Linked DNA regions of Homo sapiens. The protein of the gene in region 2 purifies or fractionates together with the protein of the main gene of each other region. This does not show direct contact. Each region holds a gene or a part of one and is shown on either strand. Other genes may lie near its edges.

Region 1 (3,500 bases), on a different chromosome or scaffold from region 2:
GCTTGACACAGGATGCTAGCAGGGGGACAGAGCTGTGGGCTTATGACATGTGACACAGCAGAGGGTGGAGCTGACAAGACCTCCCGCCAGCCTGGACTGGGGACAGGTACTGTTAAAGAGAGGGATCTAGGATGCTTCGGGGCTTGGGGCTTGTGCAAACATCTGGTTTGTTAGTGCTACTTACCCATTGGAAAAGGACTAGCCTCTAGGGGAGACAGAAATCAAGAGTTCTGCTTTAAAGATACTATAATTTGAAATGCCCTTTAGACTATTTGATACTTACAACGATTAACACTAGAGAGGTCTTAGACTGCATCAGCATTCATTAACAGCAAACATTTATTTGACAAACACTGTATGTCATGCATCATGCCACACCGTGAACTGTGACCTGGGCACTTACTATGTACCTAGTACAGGTGTGTGTTAGGGTACAAGGGTTGGTTAGAGGGACACAGAAAGGAAAAGACATAACGCTTATTCTCAGGGCACTCAAGTAATCACGTGGGAAACTGACATACAATTCTCTTTACATTATACCATAAAAATAAACTGAGATGATGGACTACAAATCTAAATATGAAAGATAAAATAATAAAGCTTTTAGAAAAACATCTTTTTGACCTTGAAATAGAAAATTATTTCTAAAACATGAAAAGCATTAATCATAAAAGAAAAAACTGATATACTTAATTATATTAAAATGAAGAATGTGTATTCATCAAAGAAACAAAAAAGACAATGAATAGACAATTCACAGTGAGAACATATTTGCACTGTATGTGTGTGCGTGTGTGTGTGTATTCAAGGAACTCACTCTTAAAAATCAGAAGGAAAAAGCCAGACAATCCAACAGAAAAACAGAATAAAGACATGAACAGACACAACATAAAAGAAAATATTCAAATGGCCAATAATCATCTTTTAAAAAGCTTAATTTTGCTAATCATTAGAGAAATACAAATTAAAACCACAAAACCATACAACAAAAGATGAAAAATACCAAGAGTGGCAAGTATGTGGAGCAGCCAGAAGTCTCATACACTCTTGGTGGGAATCTACTAATGAGGAATACATGCAGATTCTATGACCCAGCAATCTCACTCATAGGGATACACCCAAGAGAAACTTGCATATGTGTTCATTGAAGATGTCAACTGGAACGGTCATAGCAGTGCTACATACAATGGCTTAAACCTGGAAACTACTCAAGCGCCCATCAGAGTGGAACAAATAGTTGTAATATAATCACACAATAAATTCCATACAACGACATGGATAAATCTCACAAACATAATGTTGAACAAAGCAGCCAGATACAAGAATACATACTGTACAAATCCACTTGATAGGAGGTACAGGCAGGCTAACCTCATCTATGCTGTTGGAAATCAAATCAGCTACTCTTTGGCAAGAGTAGTGACTAGAAGGGGACAGGTGAAAAAGAACTCTGGGGTTCTGGCCTCCGCCTCCCGGGTTCAAGTGATTCTCATGCCTCAGCCTCCTCAGGAGCTGGGACTACAAGTACGTGCCACCACGCCCGGCTAATTTTTGCGTTTTTAGTAGAGACGGGGTTTCACCATGTCGACCAGGCTAGTCTCGAACTACTGGCCTCAGGTGATCCGCCCGCCTTGGCCTCCCAAAGTGCTGGGATTACAGGCATGACCCACTGTGCCCAGCCAGGTTCTCGTAAAATTCTGTTTCTTGATCTGGATGCTAGTTACCAAGGTATGTTCAGTTGTTGACAATTCACTGAGCTGTACATGTATCATGTGTACTTTTTTCTATTTGTATTATACATGAATAAAAAATTAAAATAGCTAAATGGCTTTTACGAGTATACAAGTATTCAAACCTCGCACTTTGGTATTTACTATCACATAGTCCCAATTACTATGTCCAAGGTCTGAATTATAAAACATGAAAACTCATTTTATTCATAGGTATGCTTGGGGCAGTAAATTAATAAACACAAACATTGCAAGCTGAATTTAAACATACCTGGGGAGAGCCTGGCTTTGCCGCTGGAGGGGTTATCCTGGGTGATTTCTGTACCATTGAGGGCACTGGGCTTGAACTGCCCTGAGCAGATCGTCCTGCTTGAAAAAGAAGTCAGTTAAAATAGATGGCATTTATTACCTTTATTTCTCCTATCACAAATGTCCTTTCTCCAAATCTAAGAAATTAAGTTACACATTGCCCCTGGCCCACTTTCATGATTTATTTTAAAGAGTGATGACCACCAGTTGTGCTAGCCTCTGTTCTAAGATAATGAAAAAAATATATTAAAATTTTAGGAGCCAGGTATGGTGGCTCAAACCTGTAATCCTAGCCTTTTGGGAGGCTGAGGCAGGAGGATTGCTTGAGCCCAGGAGTTTGAGACCAGCCTGAGCAACATGGCAAGACTTTGTCTCTACAAAAAAATTTAAAAATTAGCCGACGGTGGTGGTACATGCCTGTAGTCCCAGCTACTCAGGAGGCTAAGGTGGGAAGATCGCTTGAGCCCAGGAGGTAGAGGCTGCAGTGATGTGCTTGGGTGAGAGAGTGAGAGGGTCTCAAAAAACAAAACAAAACTTCCTGTTTACAGTATGACTGACTGTGAAAATATGAATATAATCACTGCAGGTACTCTCTCCTCTGTACTTTTTTTTTTTTTTGAGACAGAGTCTCGCTCTGTCGCCAGGCTGGAGAGCAGTGGCGTGATCTCGACTCCCTGCAATCTCTGCCTCCTAGGTTCAAGTGATTCTCCCGCCTCAGCCTCCTGAGTAGCTGGGATTACAGGCACCCACCACCACACCTGGCTAATTTTTGTATTTTTAGTAGAGATGGGGTTTTGCCATGTTGGCCAGGCTGGTCTCGAACTCCTAACCTCCGGTGATCCACCTGCCTTGGCCTCCCAAAGTGCTGGGTTTATAGGCGTGAGCCACCGCACCCCGCCAAACAACTCTTGTGCCTGTGCTTCTTAAAGAACTGTTATGTAACTGCTCTTCATGGAGGGCAGGCTCCATATGAAAATAAATGCCCAAGAGCAAGGCATTTTTGACTCATTAAATACACTTAGCTCCATAAGAAGTGTCAGAGAGAAGAGTGGCAGCATTTAAGCAAGAGCAAATCTCCCAATTCAGAGTATGAAAATCACAGCACATTAATCATTAATGTATGATACAGGAAGCAAGAAAAAATAACCTTGTCCAACTATGTTAGCTACGACTCTTAACACTTAAAACCGTTAATCTGAGAAGGCAGGGCTGAGGTCTAAAGTTGTCTGCTTAAAATCATACCTGATGGTGAGGGCAAGACTGAGGACTTCAATGGCACGGAACTAGGTGGTGCTGAGAGAGGTGTGGGGTGGCTGAGTGGTCCAGAAGCAGCTGGCTTGGAGGCAGAAGAGAATGGCGACATCGGGGGTGCGCTCTGGGAGCTACTAACAGGAGTAGAGGTAGCTGCAGCAGTAAACCTGAAAAATGGCAGCCTGAAGGCCTCAGAAGAGCCTGCTAGAA
Region 2 (3,500 bases):
GGCTTATTTCACTTAGCATAATGTTTTCAAGGTTCATTCATGTTGCAGCATGTATCAAAACCTCATTCCATTTTATGGCTGACTAGTATTCCATTGAATGTATGTACCACATTTTGTTTATCTGTTCAGCTGCTGATGACCACTTGAGTTGTCTCTACCTTTTTGGCTGTTGTGAACAATGCTGTAATGAATACTGCTATACAAGTATCTGTTTTCAATTGTTTTGGGTAATACCTAGGAGTGGAATTGCTGGGTCATATGGTAATTCTGTGTTTAGCCTTTGAGGAACCGCCAAACTTTTCCACAGAAGCTGCACCATTATATAATCTCACCAGCAATGTATGAGGGTTACGATTTCTCCATAACCGTAACAACACTTACTATTTTCCATTTTTTAAATTACAGCCTACCTAGTAGTATGTGGTGGTATCTCATTGTGGTTTTGACTTGCATTTCCCTAATGACTAAGGATGTTGAGCATCTTTTCATGTACTTGTTGGACATTTGTGTACCTTATTTGGAGAAATGTCTGTTCAAGTCCCGTGTCCATTTTTAAATTGGTTTGTCTTTTTGTTGTAGAGTTTTAGGAATCCTTTATATATTTTGGATATTAAACCTTGACCAGATATATGATCTGCAAATATTTTCTCACATTCTGTAGATTGTCTTTTCACTTTCTTGATAGATAATGTCCTTTGAAACTTAACCTCTCTTTTTCTTAAGAGACAGGGGTCTCACTATATCACCCAGGCTGGCCTCAAACTCCAGGCTCAAGCAATTCTCCTACCTCAGCCTCCTGAGTAGCTGGGACTACAGGCATGCAACCGCTGTGACCAGCTAATTTTTAAATTTTTTGTGGAGATGGGGTCTCGCTTTGTTGCCCAGGCTGTTCTTAAGCTCCTGGCCTCAAGGGATCCTCCTGCCTCAGCCTCCCGAAGTGTTGGGATTATAGGCGTGAGCCACTGCCTGGTCCCAATTATTCCTCTCTTTCGCCTTGCCTTTCCTCACGTTCTTGTTATGAGACAGAATCTCTGCTGCCCAGGCTGGAGTGCAGTGGTGCAATCATGGCTCACTGGCTATACATGTTTCCTAACTTGAGTTTCAGTTTCCTCGTCCATAAAATGAAGGTAATAATAGTATCTACCTCATGATATTTCATAAACACTAAATAAATATAAGTGCCTGGCACAATGTAAGCACTCAAGAAGTGTTCACTGTAATTATTAGTAGTAATCATCATAATAATGATAAATTATAAAGGTCTACGACAGAATCAGTGACAGAAGTCACAAGATCTTATTTGAGCGAATCCATTATTATTCCCCATAAAAGAGTTGTGAGTAGCAGACTGACTCATTCATTCAAGGCCACCCCTTATTTATGAGCCGCGGCTTCATCCAGACCACAATATATATGCTCTTGAATACACACATGTATATACACGCAGAGCTGTGAACGTGGGCCCCAACACCACCAGTGCCTAAATCTCTCCTAATAAACACAGAATTTGTCAAATTCATACACTTCCGTTTACTTAAAGAGATCTGCTTCACATAAGATTAAGTTGTTTGGCTGGGCATGGTGGCTCACGTTTGCAATCCCAGTACTTTGGAAAGCCAAGGCAGGTGGACTGCTTGAGCTCAGGAGTTCGAGACCAGCCTGGCTAACATGGTGAAACCCCTGTCTCTACTAAAAATACAAAAATTAGCCAGGTGTGGTGGCACATGCCTGTTGTCTCAGCTACTTGGGGGGCTGAGGTGGGAGAACCACTTGAGCCTGGGAAGTCGAGGCTGCAGTGAGCTGTGATCATGCCACTGCATTCCAGCTTGGGTGGCAAAGTGAGACCCCGTCTCAAAAAAAAAAAAAAAGTATTTACGACTTCCATCAACTGATATAAAGATAGATGCATTGGACTAGAAAATATTAATTTTGTGCAGGTCTCATATATTTTCCAAACTCTCAGGCTTACATCAATCACACTGATGATCAAGAGCGAAGAAAGGACGAGGATGGGCAGAAACATCACACAGTAAGTGTAACATTCTCACATGTCCAAGACGATCAGTTCAAGTTGGTGTCTGAGGCCAACGGAACTGCTAACAATCCATCCTGAAAGCAAGGGTGGCTTCCTCGGTAAGTATAAACTATAACATTCCAAATCAGGCCCAAAGTACCTTTTCTGGAGATTCACACAATATATTTTCTGGTTTCAGATCACGATGAGCAATGCCTGACATGACAAAGAGCAAAAAAATGGTTAACATATGCAGATAATTATCAAACATTCCACACACAATTAATTTTTTCCAAATGCTGTAGTTCGCAGATTAATTCCCAATTATGGTACATTAAAAAATCAACGAGCTGCAGGAGGCAGAAGTAACCAGCGACACAAACCAAAAGCACAGTTGATTCTGCGGGTTCTTTTGAAGAGGAGGCTTTAGAAGTCTGGCAGGGATAAGAAGGGCTAAATGAATCCCAGCCAGCCTACCCCTCAGTACCACAGTGACCACCAAGAAGAAGGCCTAATGCAGAGCAGAGCAGAGAGCTCTGCAAACGGCAATGCTTGGAACAGCAATGCAGAAATAATTAGTGCCTTGTTTAAGAGCATCTCAGGGGGCTTAACTGCTCTACCTCATTTCTTCTTGTGTGGCCGATTTAAAAAAAAAAATTCCTTCAGTGCGACTGTCTGAATGTTCAGAGGAGCAAGTGTTAGTTACCAAATCTCCCAAAGTGACCTATTCCCTTCTCACCTGCTTTGCATGTCTAAGGCAGCCCTGCCAGCAGCAGAGCAAAGACCGCTTTGGCACCAGGATGCTGTTATTTTTGTTTTTTAAAATAGAGATGGAGTCTCGCTATAGCCAGGCTGTTCTTGAAATCCTGGCCTTAAGCAATCCTCCTCCCTTGGCCTCCCTAAGCATGGGGATTACAGGTGTGAGCCACCTCGCTAGGCCCACTGAGGGTTGCTGTTTTTAAGAGAAAACCTCTGCACTTTGGCCAGGCCTCCTGAAGGCGACTGGAGATAGCAGCTTAGCCCATGAGGGGTTAACCTGCTGACCTGGCCAAGAAGGCACCTCGGGGAGAGCCCTCTTCTAACCAAAGAAAGGGACAAAGAACTAACTCTGGGTCATGGTGTTTTGGTGGAGGACACAGAAACCTCCCTTTTGTCTTTCCTTCCACAGCACATGCAGCACAGAGACAGGGCTGGAAGGCTGAGCAAGAGTCAGAGCTACAGTTGGAAGTATTGGAAAGCGGCAGCGGATTCTCGGGGTGATGGGAAAAGCAAAATCTGCTTCACTAAAACTCCGTCGGTGATCAACTTTTTCAGCAGTCCTCCGATTCCCGACTAGAAGGCAAAAGCCTGGCCCAGGCCACGGGAGGCACTTCACTAAAGAAGAAAAACCTGAGCTCCAGCAAGCTCAGTAACTTCATCAGTCACCTAATTGAACGAGAACCCAGAGCAACTCAGTCCAGGCTGCACAAATTGAGTAGCACTGCTC

The links.
Region 1: the proteins of MKNK1 (region 2) and NUP214 purify together in Homo sapiens (affinity purification with mass spectrometry; one large-scale study listed by BioGRID and IntAct). This does not show direct contact.

Annotation. Positions count from the first base shown.
Region 1 is NC_000009.12:131,146,086-131,149,585, reverse strand, and holds part of NUP214 (nuclear pore complex protein Nup214), read right to left. Parts: intron 3,458-3,500; coding exon 3,282-3,457; intron 2,100-3,281; coding exon of another isoform or gene 2,097-2,099; coding exon 2,002-2,096; intron 1-2,001. UniProt on the Homo sapiens protein: Part of the nuclear pore complex. Has a critical role in nucleocytoplasmic transport.
Region 2 is NC_000001.11:46,566,269-46,569,768, forward strand, and holds part of MKNK1 (MAP kinase-interacting serine/threonine-protein kinase 1), read right to left. Parts: exon of another isoform or gene 2,231-3,500; coding exon 2,175-2,230; intron 2,030-2,174; exon of another isoform or gene 1,938-2,029; intron 1-1,937. UniProt on the Homo sapiens protein: May play a role in the response to environmental stress and cytokines. Appears to regulate translation by phosphorylating EIF4E, thus increasing the affinity of this protein for the 7-methylguanosine-containing mRNA cap.